Linked DNA regions of Homo sapiens: region 1 is linked to region 2. Evidence: fine-mapped expression QTL. A gene starts in region 2. The other region holds a variant in brackets. All regions are shown on one strand. Distances are from middle to middle.

Region 1 (15,714 bases), 26 kb after region 2:
CATTGCAGCCATCCCCTCGGTTGCACAGACATTCCCTTTCTCGCACTTTGATGCTGGAATCACTGGTCTTTTCACCTTCGTAGGAGGTGTCACTCCAGGATGTCCGGAAAGAAATCAACTTCTGCCGCAAGGTGAAGCTGCCCATCATCGGGGTGGTGGAGAACATGAGTGGCTTCATCTGTCCTAAGTGCAAGGTGAGGGCGCGTGGGGCTGCCAGGCGAGCAAGATCTTGCTCTCATGGATGAGGAAACGATCGGAAGGCTGCTCTGCAAACTATTTCTGCTTTCCCTGTCATTTTGGGAAGTGGAATCACAATTAAAATCCCTTTCTGCTGACTAAAGGAAAGTTCTTTAGGTGTTAAGGGTTCCACATTCAAACTAAGCCTTTTTTTTTTTTTTAAGTTTCTTTAAAATGTGGTCCATCCTTGTGATTCTGCAAAAAAATTATGTTTCCTCCCCTTTGAATTTGCCTTGCAGAAAGAATCTCAGATATTCCCTCCCACAACCGGGGGCGCGGAGCTCATGTGCCAGGACTTGGAGGTCCCTCTCCTCGGCAGAGTGCCCCTGGATCCGCTCATAGGTGGGTGACCCCAGTGTGGGGCGGCACCTCACTCCTCGGTCAGCCCCACAGGCACGGGTCGGGCACAACAGGGGGCGGCTACAGAGAGGGGCAATGGAAGGAGGAGGGTCAATGGGGCGCTGGAGCCAGACCCACCCTCCAGCTGGCACCCCAAGAGGCCACCGGGAGAGAGGCCGAGACCCCTGCGGGCAGGTAGCGGGAGCAAGCAGGCCTCAGGCAGAGGGGTGAGGCCTGGAAGAATGGGGTAGAGGTTGGTGAGGGTGGTGGTGGCAGGGGACTGAGGAGGGCACCCGATAGAGGGGCGGCTCCAGGGGATGCACATGGCGTCCAGGTTACAGAGGAAGGCGGCCTGAGGTGAAAATCCCTTAGGAAGGGGCCGGGCCTCCTGTGCCCGGAGAAGCCAGCACGGCACAGATGAGGCCCCTTTGTCTCCAGCACCGGGACAGACCGGAACGCGGATCACTGGCCTGCGAGCAGGGGCCAAGTTCCCAAAAAATGCTCTTCTTAAGTACGTGGGTCTCCCAGGATCCCAAGAGATGCCCACTCCCTGAGTGGCCCTGAGGCTGAAGGAGGGACGGGGTTTCACGTCTCCACCCACACGCCCGCCGGGCGCCCACTCGCCGCGGGGCGCTGGGCAGGGCCTACACTCGAAGCTGCTCCCCCAGGAGGCTGCTGTCCCCCAGGACCGCGGAGCCGGGCGGGCCTCCGTTACTGGGGCCCTTTAGTGGGGCTCCTGCGGGGCGTCCAGCACTCGCCTTTAGGTCTGAGGGGAGAACAGAGAGAGAAGGCTGGAGGGGAGGCCGGGATCCAGGAGTGCCGGCTGCACCCATGCCTCGGAACTTCCACTCCATTTGTCAGGGAACCAAGGCCAGTGTGAGGTGTCTGTGCCGGGACAGGAGAGAGGGGCCGGGCGGGTGAAGTATGGCCTGGCCAGGAGAGGGTGGGGGCCGCGTGCTTGGGGAGAGGGCGGGGCCCGTGGAGAGCCTGGAGGCGGGGAGGGCGGAGGCCACGTGGGGAGCCTTGGGGAAGGGCTGCATGGGGAGAATGGGAGCCTGTGGGAAACGACTGTCAGTGTCATGTGCCTGGGAACAGGAGGCTCAGGAGTGGCTGCCCTGGGATAGGGGTTCAGGATGAGGCCCTGGGTTCTGGCGTTGGTGTAGAAAGGAAGGGACACACACAAGAGAGAAAGTGACGGCATCTGAGGGTCAAGGTTGTCCCTGCTGCCAGTACAAGTCACCTGGAGGAGGGTCCGTCCCTCAGAGACAGTGAAGCAGGGGTGGTAGAGGGAGGCCGGGCCCTCTGGGGTGCTGCGGCTAAGGGGCTCGGGGGCTCAGGTTGTCAGCAGGTTCTGGGGTCCGTCAGGAGAAGGTGGTTCATGTCCGTGCAGTTGAGTTTTGAAGCCACAGGACATGGACAGGATTGCCAAGGGGCCGTGCAGAAAGCGGGAGCCAGGAGGACAGTGTTGGGGGATGGCTGCCTCGAGGAAGTGGTAGGGGGGTAGGGTGCGAGGGCCACTCTGAAGATGGGAACAGCCCGGGAGAACGCCAGAGACCCCATGTGCCCAGGAGGCTGTGTCCCCAAATCCTTTTTCCCTTATTCCCACATCCCACAATACTTCTCTGGCATGTGATTTCCCCAACAACATGCAGAAAAGTACAGCTGCTTTCTCAACCTTCCCCAGCATCATAAAACACTCACCAGGCAGCTTTTGCAGTGGCCGGAAGTGGTGATGAGAGCTGCCCTCTGAGGCCCCTGGAGGCAGTTGGGCTGCATGAATGGATGTGATTGGGGACAGGAGCTTGCAGCAGCCCAGGGCACATCCATTCCTGCCAGCCTGCACCTCTGCCACAGTTCAGCTCTGCCGAGATGGGATTGGTGGGCAGGACGTTTGTCAGGGGAAACATCTGTGGGAGAAAATGACAAGGGAGAGCGTTAGCCCACGATGAAGGAGTGGGGGAAGGAACATATCAGCCCGAAAGAGCATCACGGCCCATAGGAGTATCTCAGCCCCTGGAAGCATCTCAGCCCAAGGGAGCATCCCAGCCCTCAAGAGCATCTCAGCCCATGGGAGCATCCCAGCCCAAGGGAGTATCTCAGCCCACAGGAGTATCTCAGGCCACGGGAGCATCCCAACTCAAAGGAGCATCTCAGCCCACAGGAGTACCTCAGCCCATGGGAGCATCCCAGCCCAAAGGAGCATCTCAGCCCACTGGAGCATCCCAGCCCAAGGGAGTATCTCAGCCCACAGGAGTATCTCAGCCCACGGGAGCATCCCAACTCAAAGGAGCATCTCAGCCCACAGGAGTATCTCAGCCCACGGGAGCATCCCAGCCCGAAGGAGCGTCTCAGCCCACTGGAGCATCTCAGCCCATGGGAGCATCTTAGCCTGCTGGAGCACCTCAGTGTACTTTGCTTTTTGGCATCTCAGTCTGCTGGAGTATTTGTCTATTGGAGCATCTCAGTCTGCTGGAGTGTGGCAGTCTATTGGAGCATCTCAGTCTGCTGGAGTATGCCAGTCTGTTGGAGCATCTCAGTCTGCTGGAGTATTTGTCTATTGGAGAATCTCAGTCTGCTGGAGTATGCCAGTGTGTTGGAGCATCTCAGTCTGCTGGAGTATGTCAGTCTATTGGAGCATCTCAGTCTGCTGGAGTATTTGTCTATTGGAGCATCTCATTCTGCTGGAGTATTTGTCTATTGGAGCATCTCAGTCTGCTGGAGTATGTCAGTCTATTGGAGCATCTCAGTCTGCTGGAGTATGTCAGTCTATTGGAGCATCTCAGTCTGCTGGAGTATGTCAGTCTATTGGAGCATCTCAGTCTGCTGGAGTAGGTCTATTGGAGCATCTCAGTCTGCTGGAGTATGTCAGTCTGTTGGAGCATCTCAGTCTGCTGGAGTATGTCAGTCTGTTGGAGCATCTCAGTCTGCTGGAGTATGTCAGTCTGTTGGAGCATCTCAGTCTGCTGGAGTATGTCAGTCTGTTGGAGCATCTGTCTGCTGGAGTATGTCAGTCTGTTGGAGCATCTCAGTCTGCTGGAGTATGTCAGTCTGTTGGAGCATCTGTCTGCTGGAGTGTCTTGGCTGCTGTCGAGGAAAGCTGGGCACAGCCACCAGGGCATTCCTGAGCCCACTTACCCATCAGAGGGGCTGCATCTCCCAGAAGCGTGCCTGCCCGAGTGCCATGCTCGTCTCAGTCACTAGCTAGGAGCAGCCTGGGAGTGGCATTGCCTCAACACAAACGTGGTGGTGGATTTTGGAGCATGGCAGCTGCTGCCAGAGATCCAAGAGGTGTGTCCTTATGGCCATCACAATTGCCACATTTTCCAAGGTTTAATGAAGAGCTAGAAATCTATATCCTTACCCAAAGTCTCCTGATACTAAATGATAGCAACTAACTCCATTAAATACACACACACACACACACACAACCATGCTCTAGCCTGGGTAACACAGGAAGATACCTCATCTCTTAAAAAAAAAAAAAAAAAAAAAAGGAAAAAATTCACCCAGTGTGGTGGCATGTGCCTGTGGTCCCAGCTACTCAGGAGGCTGAGTTAGCAGGATCACTTGAGCCCAGGGAGGTTGAGGTTGCAGTGAGCCATGATCACACCACTGCACTCCAGCCTGGGCGACAGAGCAAGAACCTGTCTCAAAAAAAAATTTAAAAATGGCATGCTTGCTGACCCACCCAAATATGTCCACGGGCCCAGCCACAGGCCTGCCCTTGCCATTGTCTGACAGATCAGGAAGTGACCTTGGGGCTATTAGATCCTGATACGGCTTTTCTTCCAAAGAGCCAGCAACCTCCATCTTCCCACCTCCCTCACACCAAGCCCTGGCATTGGCCCTGGTCTTTCCTTTCAGGGCCACTTTTCACAAAGAAACAAAGTTCCAGGTGGTTCACAAGAGCTAATTTCAAAGCAGAGGAGCCACCAGTGACAGCTGCGAGGCTCATTCTGAGCTGAGAACATTAAGTGCCTTCTAGTGGGCATGGTCCTGTGTGTCAAATGGCACATTGCAGAAGCTCACCTTGAGGGGAAGCCACAGATAGCAAGGCCAGGGAGTGCCAGAAAGGAAGGGGTGGTTAACACTGTCACCCACCCAAGAGGGTGGAGCATGAGGGCCAAGTGACAGACACGCATCTGGCAAGGTCACTGGGGACAGAGTGGGGGAAAACCCACCTTCCTAGGAACAGACAGGAAGGCATGAGGACAGCACTTCAGTCTCCTCTGGGGACATGGTGGCAAAGAGTTACAGATGCCAGCGCTCTGGTGCTATGGGTCCTGGTCCCGGTGTGCTGAGGATCACAGGAAGGGCTGGCCTCAGAGCCCTGCTCCGCCACCACTAGCTGTGGGACTTGGGCTAGTCATTTCCGCTCTCAGCCTCGATGGCCCCGTGTGTAAAATGCAGGTGACAGTGGTGCCTAGTGAGAGGGATCTGCCAGGGTGGGGTGAGAGGATGCCTGGGATCTCTTGGAACAGGGCTGTGCTCACACCAGCTGTTCTGATAATGCTGCCCGTTCTTGGAGAGGTGGGAGCCCAGGGGGAAATGCAGTTAGGAAGGGAAAACACTAGAGCATATATGTGTGTTGGGGGCTGGGGAGCCCTCTGGGGAAGGGAGACCTGGGTGAAAGTCAGGGACAGAAAGTAGCCCCAGCATGACTATTCTGGGATCCCCAACCTCCCAGGTCTGGCCCAGCGAACGTGCACTCAGGGGCCTCCCTAGCGAGTTCCACATGGTCTCATGGGCCCAGCGTTAACGGCGGAGGATGTCCAGGTTCTTGGTGTCTGGAACAAAAAATTGGACAAAACGCACAAAGAAAGGAAGGAAGGAAGGGATTTATTGAAAATGAAAGTCAACTCCACGGTGTGGGAGGAGAACGGGCCTGAGAATAGGGGCTCAAAGGCCCCATTACAGAGTTTTTGTGTTTAAATACCCTCTACTTGAGGTACGCCCTATATAAACGAAAAGGATGAAGTAAAGTTACAAAGTCATTTACGGCATACGTCCTATGGAGAGGACATTTCCTGTTATGGCTCAAGTGCGAATTGGCCTTATGTTCCCTGCCTCTGGACCCTATTTTCCTGACTCACTGGGCCATATGGGCTCCCCATCTCCCACCAACCCCTCCCCACAGGCTTCTTCCCCGACTTGGACTTCCCTGTCCCACAGGGCGACACAGTAGTGAAGTTGAGGAAATGATGAGTGCTAGGTAGGAACCCCTCCTGGGGTTCACCTGAGGCTGGTGACCGGCCATGGGCAGTGCAGTCACTTGCCTGTTTCGCCAGCAGCTCAGGCCTGGGGAGTGGGCAGAGCAAGCTGATGGCAGGTCCACCCACGACTGGGGGCTGGCAGGGCAGACTGGAGGCGAGAACACCCCCATTGACCCCTAGCCCCTTGTGTCCTGTCCACCTGGCTCTGGGATAACATGGTCCTAGAGAAACCTGGGTGTGCATAGGAGGGGACTGGAACAATGGCCACATGGCGGGGAAAGACTAGCAGACTGATAGACACCAGCACAGATGACCTGGAAGATAAAATTATACACAGACAAAGCAGCAGGCAGAATGTGTGTGTCATGTGCTCCCATTCGTATTTTAGGTATATGAGAGTGTGTGTATGTGTGTGCGCACACATGCAAGTGTGCACATTTATATGCGCATAATCTTTCTGGAAAGACACCTAGAACACTAGTAGCCCTTTTCGGACTTGGCCTTTTATGCCATATCCTTTTGCATTCTGTACTTTTTTTAACCATGTGCATTCATGATCCTTTCACTCAAAAGCTAATCTCTTAAAATGCAGACTCCTGGGCCCATGTGGAAGCTGCTGAATCAGTTCTCTGTAGGGCCCTGGAACCTGCATTTTCTGTACACCACCTGATTATTTAGCCACGCTGAAATGCTGGCTGGGGACCCTGCTGGAAGGAAGGTCCCTGAGACCCCACTGGTCTTTTCTACTTTGTTCTTCATTACGAGTGAAGCGGGCTCAAGATCTTCCCATTGTCACCAGCACGGAAAGAGCCCCAAGATCTTGTGGCCATTCTGTTTTCCTCTTGGACTGAATTGTCTTCCGTTTGTTTCTTTTTTAAGGTAAGAATTGTGACAAAGGCCAGTCTTTTTTCATTGACGCCCCAGATTCCCCAGCCACGTTAGCCTACAGAAGTATAATTCAGAGTAAGTATTTCCATGAGTACTAAATGCAGATGCCTGTGGGGCAGGAAGCAACATAAAGGAGCCAGGGGTGTGGAAGGACAGGTGGGTGGTGGGGTCTGTGATGACCACAGAGTGGCCCCCATAGCCGAGGAAGCCAGGAGTCCATGAGAAATCTCTCAATGTGTGAGTATTGTGAATTAATTCATAGTTTAAAAAACATGGTGAGGGTGAAATTTATGGCTTAGGAAATACATCCCAATAAAGGGATAAAGTAATTCATTTTTAAAAGTAACTGATAAAAAAAAAAAAGGCCAGGTGCAGTGGCTCACACCTGGAATCCCAGCACTTTGGGTGAAGGAGGCAGGCAGATCACTTGAGGCTGGTCAGGAGTTCAAGACCAGCCTGGCTAACATGGAGAAACACTGTCTCTACTAAAAATATGAAAATTAGCCGGGTGTGGTGGCGCATGCCTGTAGTCCCAGCTACTCAGGAGGCTGAGGCAGGAGAATCGCTTGAACCTGGGAGGCGGAGGCTGCAGTAAGGCGAGATCGCGCCACTGCACTCCAGCCTGGGCAACAGCGTGAGACCGTGTCTCAAAAAAATAAAAAATAAAAATAAAAACTTTGTTGAGCCAGACCAAACCCACGTGCAGGCCACATTCAGCCAGTGGCAGCCATCAGAGGCCCCAGAGTTAGGGCAGAGGTGTCAGTGTTTGTTAAAGCTGTGGTCTCTGAGTTTGTGGCTGGGTTTTACTTGCCTAGAAGAATGATGTCAAGGGTAAGGAAACAGCATTCCCAGAATCCTCCATCTATAGATGGTCCGAGGAAGGCCGCAGCCACTGGTTATGAGCAAGATGGGTAGTGTGAGGTATTCCGGTCACTTTCAAAGACTCAGGGCATCACAGACACAGGTCTTTTTATGGAACTAGCCAGAGGATTCCACCCCTGTCAAAACACAGCCCTCCCCAGCACAGGACAGGGCTGTCAAGGGGTAGACAAGCCATTAGCACTCTATGCCTGTCGTCTTGTTTTCCAGGAATCCAAGAGTTTTGTAATCTCCATCAGTCAAAAGAAGAGAACCTCATCAGTTCCTGAAACGAGAGAATGTTCAGGACCAAGCAGTTACCGAGCGAGGCACTCACTGGGCAGCACATCCAGCCAGACCCGACCAGCTCCGGGATG[G/C]GGTGGGTCACAGCAAAAGGACCAGATGCTGGTGTGGTCCGAAGCCACTTTCTCAGAGACACTTTAATCATTGAGTATTTGTACACTTTTCTTTAGAACATATATAAAGGGCATTCTCTACAAATGTGCCGTTTTAAGAATAAAACCCCCTCAAATCTCTCCCCCGAGGCCTGTTTCACGTAAAAAACAAATGGGTTGTGGGATCGTGGGATTCTGCTGTGTCGGAAGCTTAGTCGATTGTAGAAACTCCCGTTTAAGCCATTTCTGCCTGTGAAGATAAGAAAGCCTAGAAAAGAACCAAAGGGGTGAGTGTGCGGCTTCACTGCAGAACACACAGGCTTGTTTTCAAACACCACAGTCCAAACGCTTTTCTTCAGATTGAGGAAAAATCTAAAAGCAACAGAGCTCAGGCTGGGCTTCGTTCTAAAATCACTGCATATGACACAGCTGGGTCAAATCAAAAAGCCCTTGAAGAGTCCTTGAATCACCCAGTAAGACAGAATGTGGGGTCTGTGTAAATTCCCTGTGTAGTAATATGTGCACAGTATATCCAGTAATGTCCAGTGTCATGCAAACCAACTTTCAGGTTTTTTAATTATATAAAAAAGAGGGACAGATGTAAACTCTACGATCATCCTCTTTGCCATGAGGTGCTTGCTCTGTTTGAGACACACAGGATCTGAGACCACGTGGGAGAAGAGTAAATTCCTGTTTTCCCTCCACTCTGGGGCATAAAAGTGGGTGGGTGGGAAACAAGAACAAATCCCCTTGTTCTTTCCCTCCCTTGTCTCTTCCCTCCCCGCCCTTCCCTAGGACCATACATATGATCAGATTTGCACATGTTCAGTGTGAGGAAGGTGTGACCTCGCCCCCCGACCCCCAGCTCCTCACGCCAAGAGCAATGAGGCTGCAAAGCCCAGGGCAGGCCCATTGCCCAGTCTGCTTCCTGCCTGGTCACATGCCTGGCCACCCCAGGGAACAGGGGAAGCCCACCCAGACCCCGGGCCCCTGTGCCCCAAGAGCTGCATTTTTCAGAATTCCCCAGTTCCTCCACACGGGTGCCATGATCCATTTCTCACCTAATGCTGGTGAATCTCCAGCCCCTCGAGGCCAGGCTTCTGAAAGTCACCTGGGCAGGCCTGCAAGGGGAAAAGTCAACCATGGTTTTCTGTCCTTACACGCGAGTGGGGCGATCCTGCTGATGGAAGGCCAGAGAAAACCCACAAAGTACAGAAAACCTGCGGAATTGGTTGCTTGATGTCTTGGCATAAAGCAGTGCTGTTCAAATTTAGGACGGTTCTACCCATTTCAGGATGAACCTGGTCAAATTTCAAAGACTTCTGTCTCTCACTTTTAGAAATATCTATTAAGTTAAAAAAAAAAAACAAAACAAAAACAAGCTGGGCACGGTAGCTCCCGCCTGTAATCCTAGCACTTTGGGAGGCCAAGGCTGGTAGATCACTTGAGGCAAGGAGTTCGAGACCAGCCTGGTCAACATGGAGAGACCCCGTCTACTATAAATACAAAAATTAGCCAGGCATGGTGTTATGCACCTGTAATCCCAGCTACTTGGGAGGCTGAGGCAGGAGAATCACTTGAACCCGGAGCCGGAGGTTGCAGTGAGCCAACACATGCCATTGCACTCCAGCCTGGGAGCAGAGTGAGACTCCCATCTCAAAAAAAAAAAAAAAAAAAAAAAAAAAATTGAAAAACCGTTTGTGACTCTTTCCTTAATTCTATACTTTTAAAAATCACTGAAAACTAACAATGGCAGTCACAAAAGGACAAAAACTATAATTGCACTTATAGGAGGTCCCTAGGGCTGTCAAACCAATAGATACAGAAAGCAGAATGCTGGTTGCTAGGGCTAGGAGGCGAGGAGGAGGGGGAGTTAGTGTTTTGTGGGTACTGAGCTTAAGTTTTGCAAGATGAAAGCAGTTCTGGAGCTGGGTGGGGTGAAGGTTGCACAATAAAGTGGTTATACTTAATGCCACAGAACTATACATTTTAAAATGGTTACAATGGTACATTTTATGTAAATCTTACAATTAAAAAACAAAACTGCCAGGCACAGTGGCTCACTCATGGCTGTAATCCCAGCACTTTGGGAGGCCAAGGCAGGCGGGCTGCTTGAGCTCAGGAGTTCTAGAGCAGCCTGGGCAACATGGCAAAACTTCGTCTCTACAAAAAAAAAAGGCCAGGCATGGTGGTACACACCTGTAGTCCCAACTGTGCCAGAGGCTGAGGTGGGAGGATCGCTTGAGCCCAAGAGATGGAGGTTGCAATAGGCCGCGATCACACCATTGCACTCTAGCCTGGGTGACAGAGCGAGATCCTGTCTCCCAAAAAATATATAAACAATAAAACATTGGCAGCCTGGCGGATATGTTACATTACAAACCGCAGTTGCCAGCAGGCCACCTTGACTTTGACTACCTGGAGAGGAGTGGTCCAAGAGTCAGACCTCAGTTACTCACCGTCTGGAACACTGTCTGGGACAGGAAACTGGCTGTGACCTTGCCAATGTCACTGTTGCCTCCCATCTTACAAAGGATGTAGCCATACAGGTTTGCAGCTTGGAGAGAGATCCCAGCAACCACCAGAGCCTGCACTCAGACAAAGAAAGCAAAGGTCACTTTTTTTTGAGACAGAGTTTCGCTCTGTCGCCCAGGCTGGGGTGCAGAGGCACGATCTCAGCTCACTGCAAGTTCCGCCTCCCGGGTTCACACCATTCTCCTGCCTCAGCCTCCCGAGTAGCTGGGACTACAGGCGTCCGCCACCAGGCCTGGCTAATTTTTTTGTATTTTTAGTAGAGACACTGTTTCACCATGTTAGCCAGGATGGTCTCCATCTGACGCAAAGGTCACTTTCTAAGAGCATTTACAGAAATGCACCTCTCAAGCCACGTAGAAATGCTCTAGCCTGCACCTAAGAATAGTAACAGCCAACATTTACTGAGCATTTGCAAATACCCACGGACACCTCAGAATCATTACAACTGGAGAGGTTGCCACCATCATCATCCCATTTTACAAAGAGGAAACTGAGGCTCAGGAAGACGAAAGCTGCCCAAGGTCACAGAGCTGGAGCGTGGTCGAGCCGGGATCCAAATTCCAGGGCCCGCACTTTCATTAAATGACACTGTTGTTTTACTATCTACAAATATTTTGTTTTCTCTATTTATTGATTTTTTTTAAGACGGAGCCTCACTCTGTCACCCAGGCTGAAGTGCTGTGGCACGATCTTGGCTCACTGCAACCTCCGCCTCCTGGGTTCAAGCGATTCTCCTGCCTCAGCCTCCCAAGTAGCTGAGATTACAGGCGTGTGCCACTACGCCCAGCTAATTTTGGTATCTATAGTACAGACAGGGTTTTGCCATGTTGGCCAGGCTGGTCTCAAACTCCTGACCTCAGGTGATTCACCTGCCACAGCCTCCCAAAGTGCTGGGATTACAGATGTGAGGTACTGTGCCAGCCTGTGTGAGTCCATTTATATGAAATGCCCAGAATAGGCAAATCCACAGAAACAGAAAAATTAATAGGTGCCAGGGCTTGGAGGAACAGAAGCACAGGGAAGCAATGTCAAAAGGGCGCAAGGCTTCTTCCGGTGATGAAAATTTCCTAACATTGATGGTGGTTTTGGCTGTACAACTCTGTGACTGCACTAGAAGCCACTGAATTCCACACTTAGTATTTATTTTATTTTTTGGAGACAAGGTCTCACTCTAGCACCCAGGCTGGAGTGCAGTGGCACAATCTTGGCTCACTGCAACCTTTGCTTCCCGGGCTCAAGCGTGCACACCATCATGCCTGGCTAATTTTTGCATTTTTTGCAGAGATGGGGTTTTGCTATGTTGCCCAGGCTGGTCTCGAACTCCTGAGCTCAAGCAATCCTTCCACCTTGGCCTCCCAAAGGCCTGGGATTATAGGCGTAAGCCACCATGCCAAGCCCCTAATTGTATACTTTAAATGGGTAAATTGTATGGAATGTGTATTATATCTCAATAAACTTGTTATAATTGATCAATCAATCAATAACAAATAACAACAAAAGCCTAGTGGTGCAAACACTTTTTTTGCAGAGACATCAAAGCAATGTGGAAGTCAAGATCTGGCCTTACCAGCCACTTTAGCTTCAAGGAAAATAAGGTGCTAAAAAAAAACACAATCCATATCATGGGGCAGATTATGAGGCCCAGCCAGAAGATTCGTGCTTCAGCTTCTGTGGCAGCAATGCTATTCGGAGAGACCTGTTAAAGGAAAGTAATTCAAATGTCAAAACAAGTGGAAATGGTTGCAAACGAGCGTGCTCACATTTTCATTTATTTTATTTTGCAGATGCTTTTGTTGCTGTGGGATTTTTTGTTGTTGGTGTTGTTTTGTTTTGTTTTGTTTTTGAGACAAAGTCTCATTGTGTCACCCAGGCTGGAGTGCAGTGGCGTGATCTTGGCTCACTGGAACCTCCGCCTCCTGGGTTCAAGTGATTCTCCTGCCTCAGCCTCCCGAGTAGCTGGGAATACAGGTGCCTGCCACCACGCCCAGCTAATTTTTGTATTTTTAGTAGAGACAGGGTTTCACCATGTTGCCCAGGCTAGTCTCAAACTCCTAACCTCAAGTGATCCACCCACCTCCGCCTCCCAAAGTGCTGGGATTGCAGGCGTGAGCCACCACGCCCGGTCTATTTTGGAGACACTTTTGCCACACCCATGTTTCACCAGAGCACCTTGGCAATGGTGGCTTTTGTGTAAGGCAGGAATCAGATATGCACAAAACTCCAAAGGAACCCACAGAAACTTTCCACACCCATTATCCCCGCTCTGGTTAGTTCAGCTCGTCATGGAGAATACCTTCCTGGCTTCAAAGATCCAGTGGCTCTTCCCATCTTCATCTATCTGGTTCCACCATCGAAGGCCCACCAGGAGTCTTCCGGTTACATTCTGAGAACAATAGACAAAGGACTCTGAGCAGGTCACAGGCAAAGAGGCTTATTCACTGTATTGATAAACAAAAGTTCCTTGATTCATTTCAGACTTGTACTGGGAGCAGGAAGAAAAAAGGCCTTGAATTGTAGTGGATTCTCAGATGTCAAGACTTCTAGTTTTCAACTAAGCTTACTTTAAAAAGTTACACACTCCCCCCACAAAACATATATAATTTATATGTTCATATTATATATGTTTTAAATATATGTATTAATTCGTATACAAGTGATATGGTTTGGCTGTCTCCCCACCCAAACCTCATCTTGAATTGTCGCTTCCATAATTCCCACGTGTTGTGGGGGAGACCGGGTGGGAGATAATTGAATCATACAGGCAGTTTCCCCCACACTGTTCTCATGGTAGTGAATAAGTGCCACGAGATCTGATGGTTTTTATAAGGGAAACCCCTCTCACTTGGCTCTCATTCTCTCTCTTTTTTTTTTTTTTTTTTTCCGAGACAGAGTTTGACTCTTGTCACCCAGGCTGGAGTGCAATGGCACAACCTCGGCTCACTGCAACCTCCGCCTCCCGGGTTCAAGTGATTCTTCTGCCTCAGCCTCCCAAGTAGCTGGGATTACAGGCACACACCACCGCGCCAGGCTAATTTTTGTATTTTTAGTAGAGACGGGGTTTCTCCATTCCCCTTACTTTTAAGTGACACTGCTCAGCACTCTTAAGCATGTCTCAGGAGTCTAAACCAAAGTACCTCTTGGTACCACGCACACAGGGGACAAGCCTCGTGTTTCGGAAGTGATGACATCACACGAAAGGGCCTCACCTTCACAGACCAGAAGTCCAGGGACAGGAGGAGCAGCACCATGACAAAACAGCCCACAAAGCTCTTGCTGAACCAGTCGCAGCTCACGTAGGTGACGATGGCACTCACTCGGAAAAACAGGTGGAAAAAGGTGGCCAAGGGGTGTCTAGGAAAGGACCCAGAAGGCGCCCTCACTCCAAGAGCTAAGCGGATGGTCACTGAACTCCCTTTACCACTTCAGACTTTGCTGGGGGTGTTAGCGTGGCTCAATGGAATGTTCTCCCCGGTGCATATGACGCAGAAACTCAGGCTGTAGCCCTGGGGACACATCATTAGGTCAGCAGTCCCCAGACAGTCATGCTGACACTGTTTTTTTTCCTCCCCTTCGAAGAATCCAGTACTTTCCCGCCACTTGACTCCAAATATCACTTGCCCTCTTCGAAACACGGTCATCTTTGAAGTGAAACGTGACAGCAGTCACTGCCTTCCCGCCTAGCAGAGATGACGGCCAGTTCCCTAAAGGTAAAGGTTGGGTTTTTCCACCACCAGTCACTGAGCTCCAAGCTCACACGCAGCCCACGGGGCAGGTGTCTCATGTCATCGGGGAATGCGTGTTCCTGGACAGAGGGAAACATGTGACCTGTGAATGGCAGGTCTAACTCATCATACTTGCTCAGTGGTGAATGGCACGTGAATCCTGGCATTTAATCTAGGGGAAGGTGGTTCTTGTTCACTGTGCCTTTAGACACAAACCTGGCCAGAAAGAAGAGAGGGAGCCAAGGGGAACATGCTCATCCTGTGTAAATTGCTTTTCTTTTTTTTTTTTTTTTTTTTTTGAGATGGAGTCTTGCTCTGTCCCCTAGGCTGGAGTGCAGTGGCGTGATCTCGGTTCACAGCAACCTCCACCTCCCGGGTTCAAGCAATTCTCCTGCCTCAGCCTCCCAAGTAGCTGAGATTATAGGCGCCTGCCACCACGCCCAGCTAATTTTTGTACTTTGAGTAGAAACAGGATTTCAACATGTTGGCCAGGCTGGTTTCGAACTCCTGACCTCAGGTGATCTGTCCACTTTGGCTTCCCAAAGTGCTGGGATTACAGGCATAAGCAACCACGCCTGGCCTTATTTTTTTTATTATTATTATTTTTTAATGTAAGTCTGATATAGGCCAGGCACGGTGGCTCACACCTGTAATGCCAGCACATTGGGAGGCCGAGGCGGGCGGATCACCTGAGGTCAGGAGTTCAAGACCAGCCTGGCCAACATGGTGAAACCCCATTTCTACTCAAAATACAAAAATTAGCTGGGCATGGTGGCGGCTGCCTGTAACCCCAGCTACTCGGAAGGCTGAGGCAGGAGAATCACTAGAACCTGGGAGGCGGAGGTTGCAGTGAGCCAAGATCACGCCACTGCACTGCAGCCTGGGTGAGAAAGTCAGACTCCAACTCAAAAAATAAAAAAATAAAAAAATAAAAACAAGAAAAGAAAGGTTACCAAATTGTATAGAGCAGGTGATGGCAGTGGGTGATGTGGGCCAGACTGAAGACACTTGTGGGTTTCTGTTTCTTTCTGTGGTTTCCCAGTTTAAATAGAGCACACAGGTAGAGAACGATACTCAACTATGATCAGGAAATCAATGGCACGAGCCCAGTTGTTATACCAGAAAGGGTTTCAGATCCAGACCCCAAGAGAGGGTTCTTGGATCTCACCCAAGAAAGAATTCAGGGCAAGTCCATTGAGTAAAGTGAAAGCAAGTTTATTTGGAAAGTAAAGGAATAAAGAATGGCTAGTCTATAGATAGAGCAGTCCTAAGGGCTGCTGGTTGCCCATTTTTATGGCTATTTCTTGATGATATGCTAAAGAAGGGGTGGATTATTCATGCCTCCCCTTTTTCGACCATATAGGGCAACTTCCAGACGTTGCCATGACATCTGTGAACTGTCATGGTGCTGGTGGGAGTGTAGCAGTGGGGACGACCAGAGGTCACTCTCATGGCCATCTTGGTTTTGGTGGGTTTTAGCCGGCTTTTTTACTGCAACCTGTTTTATCAGCAAGGTCTTTATGACCT
Region 2 (15,714 bases):
CGGGAGGCTGACACATGAGAATCACTTGAACCTGGGGGGCAGAGTTTGCAGTGAGCAGAGATTGGGCCACTGCACTCCAGCCTGGGACAGAGTGAGACTCTGTCTCAAAATAAATAAATAAATAAATAAATAAATAGGAAAAGATGTTTAACACAGTCATTAAAATAATGCAGATTAAAACTACAATAATACAGCAGTATGCATCTATTGAAATATTTAAAATCCAAGGTTGTCTGTAACCTATGCATCTATTGAAATATTTAAAATCCAAGGTTGTCTGTACCCACTGCTGGCAAGAATATGGAGCAGTTAAAAGTCTCATATCCTGCAGGTGAATATGCATAATCACTATGGAAAACAGTTTCGTAGTTTCTTTTTTTTTTTTTTTTTTTGAGACAGAGTCTCGCTCCATTGCCCAGGCTGGAGTGCAGTGGTGCGATCTCGGCTCACTGCAAGCTCAGCCTCCTGGGTTCAAGCGATTCTCCCACCTCAGCCTCCCGAGTAGCTGGGACTACAGGCCACCATGCCCGGCTCATTTTTTGTATTTTTAGTAGATATGGGGGTTTCACTGAGTTAGCCAGGATGGTCTCGATCTCCTGACCTCGTGATCCACCCGCCTTGGCCTCCAAAGTGCTGGGATTACAAGCATGAGCCACCGTGCCGGCCTCGTAGTTGCTTAAAAGTTAAATGCACATCTACCATTCCACTCCTAGGTATTTAAGCAAGAGAAATGAAGATACACGTCACTATGAAGACCTGCACAAAAATGCTCACGGCAGCTTTATTTGTAACACCCCAAAACTGGAAACAGCCAAATGTCCATTAACAGATAAACTAGTATAATCATACAATGGAATACCACATAGCAACCAGAGGAAACGAGCTTCATACACGCAACAATGTGGATGAAACGAAAATAAATATGCTGAGTGAAAGAAGCTGAATTAAAAAGCGTGCATGCTGTATGATTACATTTATATAAAATTCTAGAAAATCCAAACTAATCTACAGTGAAAGAAAACAGGTCAGTGATTGCTAAAGAACAAGAGCGGACCACAAGGAAACCTTTGGGTACATACATATGTCAAAACTTGGCAATTGTATACTTACAATATGTGCAGTTTGTTGTATATCAGGTATACCTCAACAAAGCAGCTTAAGAAATAAACCGGCCGGGAGTGGTGGCTCACGGCTGTAATCCCAGCACTTTGGGAGGCCAAGGCGGATGGATCACCTGATGTCAGGAATTCGAGACCAGCCTGGCCAACACGGCGAAACTCCGTCTCTACTAAAAATACAAAAATTAGCCGGGCGTGGTGCCAGGCACCTGTAATCCCAGCTACTCAGGAGGCTGAGGAAGGAGAATCGCTTGAACCTGGGAGGCGGAGGTTGCAGCGAGCCGAGATTGTGCCACTGCACTCCAGCCTGGGAGACAAAGCGAAACTCTGTCTCATTAAAAAAAGAAATAAACTGATAATTACTAACACCTATATAGGGCTTGAAAGTGCCAGACACTCTAAAAAACTGTTTTACTCATTAACTTGTTTAATCTTCCCAACAATAATTCCTTGAATATTATTGTTGACATTTTTCAGAGACGGAAACTGAGACAGGGAGCCTGAATGCGAACACCTGGCATTCAAGGATCCACGTCCTTTCCAGTTTCTCTCTATATAATGCATCTGAGCCTTGTTTTTCGACTCAATTATGTGTTGAACACCTGGTGTGTATATAGCCCCTTGTTATATTTGCCGGATCCCAGGGAAGAAGCAGAAAATTTTCTACACCTAAACTTAATTTTGTTTCCATTGCCTGAGTACCTTGATCATAGGTGGGGGGAGAGCTCCACCTGCTGGTATAACTAAGGAACCGCAGGCACTTCCTGTGTTTTCTAAGGGTGCTCGCTGACCTTGTTTGAATATTTAAAGTGCCCCTGTCTGGCTGAAATTTTTAGCCGCTGTAACCAGGTTTTAGTCTTGTTTCATCCACTAATCTTTTTTTTTTTTTTGGTAAGGCAGATTCTCGCTGTGTTGCCCAGGCTGGAGGGCAGTGGTGAGATCGCCTGCCAGGCTCAAGCGATTTTCCTGCCTTGCAGCCTTCCGAGTAGCTGGAACTACAGGCGCACACCACCACATCCGGCTAATTTTTATATTTTTAGTAGATACAGGGTTTCACCATGTTTGCCAGGCCGGTCTCAAACTCATGACCTCAGGTGATCCACCCACCTCGGCCTCCCAAAGCGCTGAGATTACAGGCATGAGGCACCACGCCTGCCCAGTTTCCCCCATTTTTAACATCTTGCATTAGTGTGGTACATTTGTCACAGTTGATGAACCAATATTGACACATTATTATTAAATAAAGCCCATGGTTTATATTAGGCCTCACTCTTGGTGTCGTACGTTCTATGGGATTTGACGAATGCATAATGACATGCATCCACCATTACATAGTCACACAGAGCAGCTTCCCTGCCCTAAAAGTTCCCTGGGCTCCCGTTTACCCCTTATCCCCTCCCACCCGCTGAACTCCTAGCAACCCTGATCTTCGGACTCTATAGTTTTACTAATTTATTTTTAAAATTATTTTGAAGTCTATTTAAATCCTTGGCACTTACTTAGCTTTGTAAATTTAACTTTCATTTTTAGTCATTATTCACCATCTTCAGTCAGAGGAACTGAAATAAAAAAATTTAAATTTAAATTTAAAATCTAGTCTTTCAAAATCACAGAACTAAGTAAGTGTAAAGGAAAATTACACAAAATTTCAAATGCTAATTTTTGTTAAGTTTATGGCATTCATACTTCGGAAGTTGTTAGAATGGAAAACCGTGCTCAGACTTCTGGAACGCAGTGTGTTCAGTTCCGCAGGCCAGGAATGGCCTCCATGGGGAGATGCTGCTGAGACTTGGCCTGTCACAGAGGACTGGGCCACAGCCAGATAGGCGAGAGACAGGCAGTGGCCTTTCCTGGCAGAAGGGCCTGTGTGAGTGACAGCAATGAACTAGGGTGCCAGGCAAAGGCCAGCTGTTTAGTGAATAGACTCGATATTCTCAGTGACACTCAGGCTGGAAGGGTCAAAATGAGTCATGCAGGCTACTGAACACCATATGAAAACTGGGCCTTATCCTGTGGGCCATAGGGAGCCACTGACGGTTTATGAGCAGCAGAGTGACTTGGTCTGATTTTCATGGGGAAAGAATGTTAAGACTGAGAAACAATTCAGGGAACTGTGGGAAACATCACTGTGATCCTGGATATCTGGTTTTCCTCCACTTCCAGTCATATAAAACTGTACTTCCTATACTTTTTTAGGCATGACCATGTGACTTTTTTTTTTTTTTGCGACAGAGTTTTGCTCTTGTTGCCCAGGCTGGAGTGCAGTGGTGTGATTTCGGGTCACTGCAACCTCTGCCTCCCAGGTTCAAGCAATTCTCTTGCCTCAGCCTCCCAAGTAGCTGGGATTACAGGCATGCGCCTCTGTACCTGGCTAATTTTTGGTATTTTTAGTAGAGACGGAGTTTCACACTATTAGTCATGCTGGTCTTGAACTCCTGACCTCTAGTGATCCAACCGCCTCGGCCTCCCAAAGTGCTGGGTTACAGGCATGAGTCATCACGCCCAACCTTTTTTTTTTTTTTCTGAGACAGAGTCTCATTCTGTCACTCAGGCTGGAGTGCAGTGGCACAATCTTGGCTCACTGCAACCTCTGCCTCCCGGGTTCATGCAATTCTCCTGCCTCAGCCTCCTGAGTAGCTGGGATTATAGGCGCACACCACCACACCCAGCTAATTTTTTGTGTATTTTTAGTAGAGACAGGGTTTCGCTATGTTGGCCAGACTGGTCTTGAACACCTGACCTGGTGATCCACCCGCCTCGGCCTCCCAAAGTGCTGGGATTACAGGCGTGAGCCATCGCGCCTGGCCTTTTTTTTTTTTTTTTTTTTTTTTTTAGACAAGGTGTCACTCTGCTGCCCAGGCTGGAGGGCAGTACTGTGATAACAGCTCATTGCAGCCTCCAACTCCAGCAATCGTCCTGCCTCGGCCTCCCAAGTAGCTGGGACTACAGGCATGCACCACCTTGCCCAGTTAATTTTTAAATTTTTTGTAGAGACAGGGTCTCACTATGCTGTTCTCCAACTCCTGGCCTCAAGCAATCCTCCTGCCTTGGCCTCCTAAAATGCTGGGATTACAGGTGTGAGCCACTGCACCTGACGTGTGTGACTAATTGTAGCCAATGAAAAGTGGGCAGATAGGTGTCATTTCTAGTGGAAGCATTTCAGAATCAGGGTACAATTCCCCTGGCTTGTGTCCTCTGTGTTCAAAAGGGGCCACAGGAGACGGTGGAGCTTCAGTCTGTGTCCCTGAGGAACCACAGGGAGCAGGAACCTCTGTCCATGAAGTTACATATGGAGCAAATGCCAAAATAAACTTGATTGCCTTGAGCCACTTCAGTTTGGGGATGTCTGTTTTGGCAGCGCAGACTAGCCTATCCTGGCTGAAACAGACACTGTTGCAGGACCAGGAGGAGGAGGGGGCCTGAGCTGAGGCAGGAGGGATGCTGGAAGGCATGGAGTGTCAGTTGTCTATAGCTACCCCAAACTCAACAGTGTCAAACCACCAGCATTTAGCTAGTTCACCAGCCTGTGCATTGGCCAGGTGGTTCTTCAGGACTCACGCATCTATGGCCAGTTGTGGGTCTGGATGGGTGGATCTGTGGGTCTGGATGTGTGGATCGGTGGGTCTGGATGGGTGGATCTGTGTGTCTGGATGTGTGGATCGGTGGGTCTGGATGGGTGGATCTGTGGGTCTGGATGGGTGGATCAGTGGGTCTGGATGGGTGGATCTGTGGGTCTGGGTGGGTGGATCTGTGGGTCTGGATGGGTGGATCTGTGGGTCTGGGTGGGTGGATCTGCAGCTCTTGGCTGGACTCTTCTCATGTGTCTTGGGCCGCTGGTTTAGGAGGCCTTCACTGAGAGCACAGGGGTGGCTCAGCTCAGTTCCAGGTGTTTCACCTCCCATGGGCGAGCCCAGACCTTCTCCTAGCCTGTGTACCTTTAAGTGGCAGGGGAGCTGGAGAGGGATTAAAACAGGCAAAAGCCCCATTACAAGCTTTTTCTTGAATCACATTTGCTAAAGTAAGTCACATGCCTGAGCACAGAGTCAAGGGGTAGGATGGAACCCCCTCCCCGCACGTGGGAGGGCACTGCAAAGTTCAGCAGCCAAGGGCACAGATCCAGACAGGGAGAGAAGTGGGGTCATGTGTGCTACCAGCCTACCACCTAGGGGTGCAGCTGCTGACCTGATGTCTGATTGGATGCAGGGGGTGCTGTGGGCGTCTCTATGGACAACACTGACCCCCATCCCTGTATAGGTACGCCACCCCACTAATCAACAAGAGGAGTCTGTGTCTGTGACACTTTGACCGAGAGAACATGGTGAAAGTGACTGCCACTTCCCAGCTTTGTCATTCCCAGCTGCCATTTAAAGGGACACAGGCTAGACCACTGAAAAATGAGAGAGGGAGGCCACGAGGGGGGAATCAAGGCCAGTGTGAGAGTGAAGCCATTTGAGACCTTCCAGCCAACTCCCAGCTGAATGAAGCCACATTAAGGGAGCCCAGGTGAAACCAGAAGAGTCACAGGAAGCAATAAACCATGGTGGGTTTAAACCACTACATATTGGGGTGACTTGTCACACAGCACTTGATCACTGATGGAGATGGAGAAAACTAAACAAGGCTGATACTCAGATTTACGGCTTGAGTTCTTAGCCCAGGGGTCATGCCCTGTCCAGGTATAACAAATCCAGAGGCAGGAACCGCCTTGAGAAGAAGTTGTAGACGTTTATTTGTTACGCTTGTGGGATGTCCATGCAATAAAATCCAATAGGCACAAGGTAGGATCCACAGATCCGAACTCACGGAGCAAGAGGTGTGGGAGCTGGAGACAGAAGATGGATAGCATCAGGGCTGTCAGTTGCTTGCCCAGGAGGAAGTGGGAAGTGGGACTGGAAGTGGCCCAAGAACAGAGTCTTGGGGAGCACTCACCTTAAGAAGCGGCCCTGGCCAGGCGCGGTGGCTCACACCTGTAATCCTAGCACTTTGGTAGGCTGAGGCGGGTGGATCACCTGAGGTCAGGAGTTCGAGACCAGCCAGGCCTACATGGTAAAACCCCGTCTCTACCAAAAATACAAAAAATTAGCCAGGCGTGGTGGTGGGCACCTGTAGTCCCAGCTACTCAGGAGGCTGACACAGGAGAATTGCTTGAACCCGGGAGGTGGAGGTTGCAGTAAGCCAAGATCACACCACTGCACTCCAGCATGAGCAACAGAGTGAGATTCCATCCCACAAAAATAAAAATAAAAAGGAGAATAACTTGCATCCTGCCCTCTAATATACAGTATAGTGATTAATAGCAAAGGCCCTGTATCAGACTTGGTTAAAAACCCAGTTCTGCTCTTTCTGCCTCTCAGACTGTGGACAAGTAAATCTTTGCAGCCATCTTATCACCTGTAAAACGGAAATGACAACAGTCCCTACCTGATAGGTGACTTCCTCTCTGCTCTCCAGGCCTTTGCTGATGCCCCATCACTCTGGTCCTCTTCTCCCGACCAGACTGTGCTCCAGATGGCAGGGTCCAGGTTAGTCTGGAATCATTGGCATCTAGCCCAGTGCTGGCTGGGACCATGTGTTACTAAGTGCAGGCTCTGCAGCCAGACAGACCAAGTTTATCACCCTGGTTCCCCTGCTACCAGTCATGCGACCTCGGGAAAGTAGTTTACTTTAAGCCTCAGTTTCCTTATCCAAAAATGGAGACAGTAGGACTATGAAAGGACATAAATTAGGTAATTCACATGAAAGCACAAAGATGACAGCTGCCAAACGGTAAGTATTCTACAAAATGCTGGCTATAATTAGTGGTAGTGACAGGCAGCTGATACACTGCTGTTTAATAAATGTTTCCGAGGCCGGGTGCGGTGGCTCATGCCTGTAATCCCAACACTTTGGGAGGCCAAGGCGGGCAGATCACGAGGTCAGGAGATCGAGACCATTCTGGCTAACATGGTGAAACCCTGTCTCTACTAAAAATACAAAAAATTAGCCGGGCGTGGTGGCCTGTAGTCTCAGCTACTCGGGTGGCTGAGGCAGGAGAATGACGTGAACCCAGAAGGCGGAGCTTGCAGTGAGCCGAGATCCCACCACTGCACTCCAGCCTGGGTGACAGAGCGAGAATCCGCCTCAAAAATAAATAAATAAATAAACGTTTCCATATTCTTAGTGTCTGGGGCTAGGTAAAGTTTGTTCACTCATTAATATTCCAGGTGCCAAACCTGTGAGCAATGACACTCCAGTAGCAATGAGCATTTGTGGCATCCACATCTTGGTTTCTGAACTGTTGTCTGCTAAAAAGTAACCAAGGCTCCCTGAAGAAATGACTGCAGCAGGGAGAAGGGATGACTGAAACATCTTGTATCAGAAAGCAAGAAAATGCTCAAAGAAGCTGGATTAGTGCCCAAAGAACATAAGAACTGTCTTGAAGGGGCTTCACTGGCCACATCTGGGGGAAAAAAAATCGACCAGAAAGAATAATAATTGATTATAAAAGACAATTTTAAAAAATCCAGGAATCCATAGTGAGTCTTCGAAAAAAAAGAAAAAAAGAGAGGGTATAAAACTGATATATATTTATCATATATATAATCTATAGTTTTATATATATATATATAAATGCTGCTAAAATCACTGAGTGAAAGGCTGATAGAGAAGAAGATGGTCCCAGAGAGTACCTGTTAATTACAAATGGAAGAAGGAAACATTAAATGGAGAAATGGGGCAGACACCACCTTTAGCAAGCGATCAAGCTTCACATTACCAAAAACGGGACAAACTGACATTATCCAAGTGTGTTCTGCAGGAAAAAAGAAAAATTAACCTTTATCTAATTACAAGGCAAGAGGGAGGGGAGGATTAGACAAATCAAGAATATGGGATATTCTATTACACAACTGGTCTGGACCCGTCAAAATTATCAAGGTGATGAGACCCCCCCTAAAAAAAGAAGGACTGATCTGAATTAAAGGAGACCGAAGAGAAATAACTCCAGGCAGTGAGTGAATCCAGCAGGGGAGGGGGTCTAACAACTGAAATTGAAATATAAACTGTCTATTGGCTAATACTGCATTGGCTAGTACTGCATCGATATTAAATCTCTTGGGTATGAAAATGGCACTGATGTCATGAAGAATGGCTTTGTTCTTAGGAGATGCACTGCAGAAGTATTTATGATAGGAAATCTCTGAAAAGGAACAGACGTTGAGTCCCAGTCTTTCGGCCCAAGGTTCGCGCGTGCGCACAGCCCCCTTTCCGAGACTTATTTCGCGCGGTCGGAGAATCAGATTGTGCCCACAAGGCGGAAATGTACGACAGCGGGTTCCGGTGACCACGAAGGCGGCAAAGGCGACGGAATGGAGGAGGTGCCTCACGGTAAGCTCGCGGAGGGGGCGTGGGTCGCGGGGCGAAAGTGTCGGGAGCTGCTCTAACTGTGGTCTTGTCTCTGCGCAGACTGTCCAGGGGCCGACAGCGCCCAGGCGGGCAGAGGGGCTTCATGTCAGGGATGCCCCAACCAGCGGCTGTGCGCTTCTGGAGCGGGGGCCACTCCGGACACGGGTGAGAAAAGGGCAAGGCCTCAACAGGAACTTAGAGGCGCAGGCCCGGAAAAGGCGGGGCGTGGGAGGGAGGGGGCGGGATCTGCAGAATGACTGACAGCGGCAGGCTAGAAGGTATTGTATTCGGAGAGGGGTGGGGCCCAGAAGGGGCGGGGCGTGGAAAGTGGGCAGGGTGAGGGCGGAGCTTGGAATGACTGACAGGAACGAGGCCTTTAGAAGGCGAGCGCGAAGGACCTGGCGCGGATGGAGGGTGGAGACTGACCGGCGCGGAGTCGAAAGGGACATTAATTAAGAGGGTCGGGGCCAGAGGTTTGAGTGACAATAACAGACCGCAGAGAAAAACGGGATAAGCTTCGAAGTCGGGGAGTCTTCGGACTTACATCCTGGCTCTGCCAGCTACTTTCTTGACACAATTTTCTTCCTTTTGAGGAGTGATTCTCCCACTCATTCAGCAGAAATGTGTTGATCGCCTCGTAGGTTTGGTGCTGTCCTGGGGACACAGCTGGGGATCAGGCGTGGTCACTGCTCTAGTGGAGTTTAGCTTTACTGGGGAAACAAACACGTGAGCTAGCAACTAAACCACCGCAGCTTTAAGTGCTGTGAAGCACAGATTCCAGGATGAGAGGACCCAGGGAGCCTGCTCAGAAGGACCTTAAAAAGCAGGAGGCAGGAGGACAATATTTTTTTTTCTTTTTTTTCCCCCTTTTTTTTTAGACAGAGTCTTGCTGTGTAGCCCAGACCAGAGTGCAGTGGTGTGATCTCGGCTCACTGCAACTTTCACCTCTCAGGTTCAAGCGATTCTCGTGCCTCAGTCTCCCGAGTACCTGGGACTACAGGCGCCTGCCACCACGGCTGGCTAATTTTTATATTTTTAGTAGAACCAGAGTTTCACCATGTTGACCAGGTTGGTCTCGAACTCCTGACCTCAAGTGATGCATCTGCCTGGGCCTCCCAAAGTGCTGGGATTACAGGCATGAGCCACTGCACCTGGCCAAGGGGGAGAATCTTGAAGGAGTTCAGAGAGAGACTTGGATTTGATTCTTGGATCCATGCGGTGTGACCTTCAGCAATAGTCCTAACCTCTCTGAGCTTCTGGTTCCTCATCAAAAATGGAGACAGGCCGGGTGCAGTGGCTCACGCCTGTAATCCCAGCACTTTGGGAGGCCGAGGCGGGTGGATGGATCACTTGAGGTCAGGAGTTCGAGACCAGCCTGGCCAACATGGTGAAACCTGTCTCTACTAAAAATACAAAAATTAGCCAGCATGGTGGTGCATGCCCGCCCTCGAGGCTGAGGTGGGAGGATCACTTGAACCCGGGAGGTGGAGGTTGCAGTGAGCTGAGATCGTGCCACTGCACTCCAGCCTGGGTGACAGAGTGAGACCCTGTCTCAAAGAAAAAAAAAAATGAAGAGAAAAATAGTTATCTCTGTCAATGCAATGGAGAGACTGAACTGAGCCTCAGTGGAGGTTTATTGGGCCAGAGCTTGAGGGCGTGCCCTGGAAAATACAAGTGACAGAAACATCTGTGGCCTGTGCTCGATGGAGTGGTTCCAGAAGGCTGGTGTTTATATATTTCATTAAAAGGGGAAAAAGCATGCAGGAAAAAGTGCAGTAGGCCTCGTGGCAGGTAGTTACATTCTTGTGAGGTTTTAATTCGTGCCCAGTATATCTACACTATTCAGAAAATAAAGTAAACATTCAAAAGAGGGAATAAAGGAAGAATTAATTAGGCAGACGTCTCAGGGTAGGAGAGGAAGGACTATCTCATCCCATCTTTGTTTGGCATGTGGGAGGATAAGCTTGTAATGGACATGGTCAGTGTGGCGTTTAACAGACATCAGTAATAGGGAAGGAGTTAGACTGAGGTTACAGTCCTAAAGTTACAGTTGGCATGTCCTTGTTTATGGGAGGATACTCATCTTCAAAGATTTAGGGGCCAGCAAAGGAGTTCCTTAGGAGCAACTTGTGAGGGCAGTCATCCCACAATGGATTGCATGGGGCCTTTGGCCTTTTGCAGGTGTCTGGTTAATGTAGAATGCTTTGACACAAGGTTGGGAAGTAACAGCTGTCTGTTGATGGGGAGGAGGACAGCAGTGTTGGGAGGTTTCCAGGCTTAACTTTCACTTGAGTTTGGCCAGTCATGAGACTTTTTAATTTCCTTTATACCTCGTGTATTGTTTTAAGGATTTGAAATAAGATAGTTTCATTGGCAGATACTTAGTATGTGCCTGCTGTCTATCAGAGTTTCTCAACCTCAGCACTGCTGACATTTGGGGCAGGATCACTCTTTGTTGTGGGGGGCTGTCCTGTGCATTGTAGGACATTTAGCACAATCTGGGCTGTACCCATTAAATGCCAGCAGTACCTCTCCTGTGACAATGAAAAGTGTCTCCAGGCTGAGCATGGTGGCTCACACCTGTAATTCCAACACTTTGGGAGGCCAAGGTGGGTGGATCACTTGAGGTTGGAAGTTCGAGACTAGCCTGGCCAACATAGAGAAACACCGTCTCTATTAAAAATACAAAAATTAGCCAGGCATGGTGGCAGGCACCTGTAATCCCAGCTACTTGGGAGGCTAAGGCAGGAGAATCGCTTGAACCCAGGAGGCAGTGTTGCAGTGAGCCGAGATCACGCCACTGCACTCCATCCTGGGCGACAGAGCAACACTCTGTCTCAAAAAAAAAAGAAAGAAAGAACAGTGTCTCCAGACATTACCAAATGTCTCTGGGGGATTTTGTCCCCAAGTTGGTGACCATTGCTGTTTGCAAAGTTCTCTTCTGGAGCTGGGAATACAGCACTGAAAGCTTCAGACAGTTCCTACCTTTGTGGAGACTATGTTCTAGTTGGGGGAGACAAACGTGTAAACCAATAAATGAGACCCCTTCAAGTGTGATAATAGCCTTATTTTCTTCCTAGCACTTATTTCTACCATTGTCTGAGAGGTATTTCAGAGGATCGTTTTAAACAGCCCCAGGACTAGTACTAGGACTAGGACTTAGCTCTTTCTAGTTGACTGGAAGCGTGACATTCGAGGTTTGGTGTGGGACCTCATCCCCTGAACTTTGGTTTTCTTTGCAGCTATAGAGGAAATCAAAGAGAAAATGAAGACTGTAAAACACAAAATCTTGGTATTGTCTGGGAAAGGCGGTGTTGGGAAAAGCACATTCAGCGCCCACCTTGCCCATGGCCTAGCAGAGGATGAAAACACACAGGTGAGACCTCAGGAACCACTGGGAGATGCTCATTTTGTCTGAGGGTCGTGATGGCTACTAAATAACTGATTCCTAGGCCAGGCGCAGTGGTTCATGCCTGTAATCCCAGCACTTTGGGAGGCCAAGGCGGGCAGATCACTTGAGGCCAGGAGTTTGAGATCAGCCTGGCCAACATGGCAAAACCTTGTCTCTACTAAAAATACAAAATATTAGCTGGGCGTGGTAGCGCAGGCTTGTAATCCCAGCTTTTCGCGAGGATGAGCCATGAGAATCGCTTGAGCCCAGGAGGCAGAGGTTGCAGTGAGTCAAGATTGTACCAGTGTACTCCAGCCTGGGTGGCAGAATGAGACTGTCCAAGAAGAAAAAAAAATGATTCCTTATACTAAGTTGAATTGGCCTCTTTGGAATCTCAATCCGGCAGAGAGCAAAGAAATGCCCAGTAGTCAAATGAAGCATTTCACTGGATTCCCTAGCCAAGAAAATGGCTAGCAGATGTACATCTGTCCTTGCATGTGGATAGTTTATTACATTACGTTCACGCTTCTTTTTCCTCTTTATTAACCCCTTTTAGCTTTTCTCTAAGCCAGGGACCTGCAAACTATAGCCAGTGGGCCAAATCCAGCCCATCTCCTGCCTTATGGCCTTTGAACTAAGAATGTTCACATTTTTGAAATGTTTTTTGTTTGTTTGAGACAGGATCTCACTCTGTCACCCAGGCTGAAGTGCATTGCTATGATCAGGACTCATTGCAACCTCTACTTCCTGGGCTCATCAAGCTATCCTCCCACCTCAGCCTCTCAAGTACCTGGGACTACAGGTGCTTGCCACCATGCCCGGCTAATTTTTGGGTTTTTTGTAGAGATGAGGTTTTGCCATGTTGCCCAGGCTAGTCTTGAACTTCTGAACTCAAGGCGTCCCCCTGCCTCGGCCTCCCAAAGTGCTGAGATTATAGGCATGAGCCACCGTGCCTGGCCTAAAATTGCAATTTTTAAATTAGTACCTAAGTACCTACATATGATCCTTGATTTTGCCCACAAAGCCTAATAATATATTTGCTGTTGGCCCTTGTGGAAAATTTTTGCTGGCCCTTACACGAGTTTATTCATTTCCACCCATGCATACAGACGAGCATGAAAACTCAGATTACCCACTGCTGCCCTCTGGATCTCAACTTTAATAAAAGGGGTTGGTGGGTCGCTAAGAGCACACACTCTGGAGTCAGACAGCCCAAACTCAGGTCCCAGCTCCATCTACACCACTGCTGTGACCTTGGGCAAGTTACCAGGCTTACTCTGCCTCCGTTTTCTCATCTATAAAATGGGACTCCAAGGACTGAGTGAGATGGCACAGTAAAGCACTTAGCACGGGGCCCGACGAATAGTCAATGCTCAGTAAAGGTCTGTGATGGCCACCATTTTTATTACTTTATTTCACTCTCTGGATATGAAGGGATGATGATTACATCTGCCTTAGAGATGAGTTTGTAGCCTACCCAAGGTATAGTACTGGGCAGATTCAAAATACACTTGTTGGGCAGGGCATGGTGGCTTACACTGTAATCACAGCACTTTGGGAGGCTGAGGCAGGCGGATCACTTGAGGTCAGGAGTTTGAGACCAGCCTGGCCAACATGGTGAAACCCTGTCTCCACTAAAAAATACAAAAATTAGCTGGGCATGGTGGTACGTGCCTGTAGTCTTAGCTACTCGGGAGGCCGAGGCATGAGAATCGTTTGAACCCAGGAGGCGGAGGTCGCGGTGGGCCAAGATTGCCCTACTGCACTCCAGCCTGGGTGACAGACAAGACTCCATTTAAAAAAAAAAAAGGATATAGATAGATACACAGACACATACACACACACACACACACACACACACACACACACACACACACACGTTGATTCGTCATTCTGTGAGTCAGCGATCTCTTGCCATTTGAGGGTCAAATCTGTACTGGCCTAGTGGGCTGGCCAAGAAATCTGCTTTCTCAGATTGTCTGTATCGTTTAGAAGAATCTTTGCTTTTCGAAGCTGTCAGGAATATTCCTAAACAGCTCACTGGAGATGGGCTTTCATCTCACCACTTGCAAGTAACCACTTGTGAGTAGACAACTGTTTACATCCTTCACTTTCATGTAATTACGTTCTGAAGTCTTTGCTGCATGCCTGTCTAGACTTTGCAGTATACAGAAGGAAAGCACACCATTCAGTGTGGAAATATGGCTAGATCAGCTGTATTTTTTTATGCAGTGGTGGTTTAAAAAAAAAAGAAGTCAGCATTTAGGAAAGTGTGTTTTCCCCAGGCAGACCTACTCATGACAGTGACATCACTATCTGCAAAGTGTCAACACATGGAAAATGCTGAATATGTCTTGATTAAAGTCAAGCAGCACAGATTTCTCCCTGCCCTAAATCCAGCAGGGTGGTGGGACATGCCCTGACCTTTTTCTGCCTGCCATCTGGTGGAAGCTTGGCTCTAACTCTGTGCAAGACCATTCCATGTTAGCGCTTGAGGCAGGCAGGCGCCTGTCATCTCATTGGCACAAAGGGCCTTGGATCAAGAGAGAGCAGAATTAGAAAACACCCCTGACGAGTCACAGGCTGCCCAGGGAGTGTGTAAGTTGTGGTGAAGGCAGAAGGAGCCTCTGTAGCATAAGCCTGAGCCATGAGACAGCCAAGAGTCATACACTGTCTTCCACTGCAAAAGTCACCGACTCCCAGCCTGGGCTTCAAAGTGAGACCCCTGTCTCTACAAAACATAAAACATAAAAAAAGTTAGCCAGGTGTGGTGGTAAGCACCTGTAGTCCCAGCTACTCAGGAGACTGAGGTAGGAGGATCACTTGAGCCTGGGAAGTCAAGGCTGCAGTGAGCCGTGATTATGCCACTGCACTCCAGCCTGGGCAACAGAGTGAGACTCTACCTCAAAAACAATGAATAAATAACAAGTCACCAACTTCCATAAATTAAACTTTTTTTGTTTGTTTTTTTGAGACGGAGTCTCATTCTTTTGCCCAGGCTGGAGTGCAGTGGTGTGATCTCAGCTCACTGCAACCTCCACCTCCCGGGCTCAAGCAGTTCTGCCTCAGCCTCTGGAGTACCTGGGATTACAGGCGTGTGCCACCACACCCAGCTAATTTTTGTATTTTTAGTAGAGACAGGGTTTCACTATGTTTGCCAGGCTAGTCTCGAACTCCTGACCTCAGGTGATCCGCCTGCCTCAACCTCCCAAAGTTCTGAAATTATAGGCGTAAGCCACCACACCCAGCCACCATAAATTAAACATTTATGATCTTTGTGATCTGAAAGGCAAACTGTCATAACAAGGTCAGCACTAGGTGTTTCAGGACTGAGTGTGCGAGGCCCTCCTCTGGGTCCTGGGACTGCAGAGCTGAGAGGGGCCTTGATGACCCCGGAGCAGTTGTCTCACAGATCAGAAGCCCAGACAGCCAAGGCTTCGAAAGCAGAAGCAACTTGTGCAAGGACTAAAAGTTAGGACTAAATCCCTCTTCCCCTACCCTCCTCATCAGGGGCAGTTTGGGGTGCTGAGTAAAGGAGACGCTTTGGGTCCCGACAGCCTTGCAGCATCTCCACCTTCTGCAGCAAACGCGGCCTCTTCCCATCAGCTGCAAACACAGGCCCAGAGGTCCTGCTGGGAGGAACGCAGGCGCATTGCTCTCAGCTTTGCTTTTCTGGCCTAACCTAAGCAAAATTAAATGGACAGATTTTGGGGTAGTAATAAGATCAACAGGAAGTCTGAACAGACAGGACCCAGGGCCGTCCTGGCCATCTGGGTAGCAGGAGCTTGTCAACAGCCTCTCGGGCCTGCCACGGGAGTGAGA

Evidence for each region.
Region 1: its variant is fine-mapped to the expression of NUBP1 in whole blood (TOPMed, PIP above 0.99).

Annotation. Positions count from the first base shown.
Region 1 is chr16:10,761,281-10,776,994 of GRCh38, forward strand. NUBP1 (NUBP iron-sulfur cluster assembly factor 1, cytosolic) reads left to right here. Exons shown (of 11, transcript NM_002484.4): 8 at 84-194; 9 at 477-579; 10 at 6,669-6,752; 11 at 7,767-8,071. The coding sequence ends at 7,825. TVP23A (trans-golgi network vesicle protein 23 homolog A) reads right to left here. Exons shown (of 8, transcript NM_001079512.4): 3 at 13,672-13,816; 4 at 12,759-12,848; 5 at 12,033-12,161; 6 at 10,390-10,518; 7 at 8,992-9,051; 8 at 5,395-7,821. The coding sequence ends at 8,992. Among named protein-coding and RNA genes, the nearest start is that of NUBP1, 25 kb to the left of the region's middle. The variant G/C (reference allele first, on the strand shown) is at 7,913.
Region 2 is chr16:10,735,400-10,751,113 of GRCh38, forward strand. It overlaps NUBP1 (NUBP iron-sulfur cluster assembly factor 1, cytosolic), which reads left to right and starts at 8,443. Exons shown (of 11, transcript NM_002484.4): 1 at 8,443-8,483; 2 at 8,562-8,666; 3 at 11,744-11,877. The coding sequence starts at 8,465. RefSeq lists enhancers at 2,309-2,358, 8,252-8,301.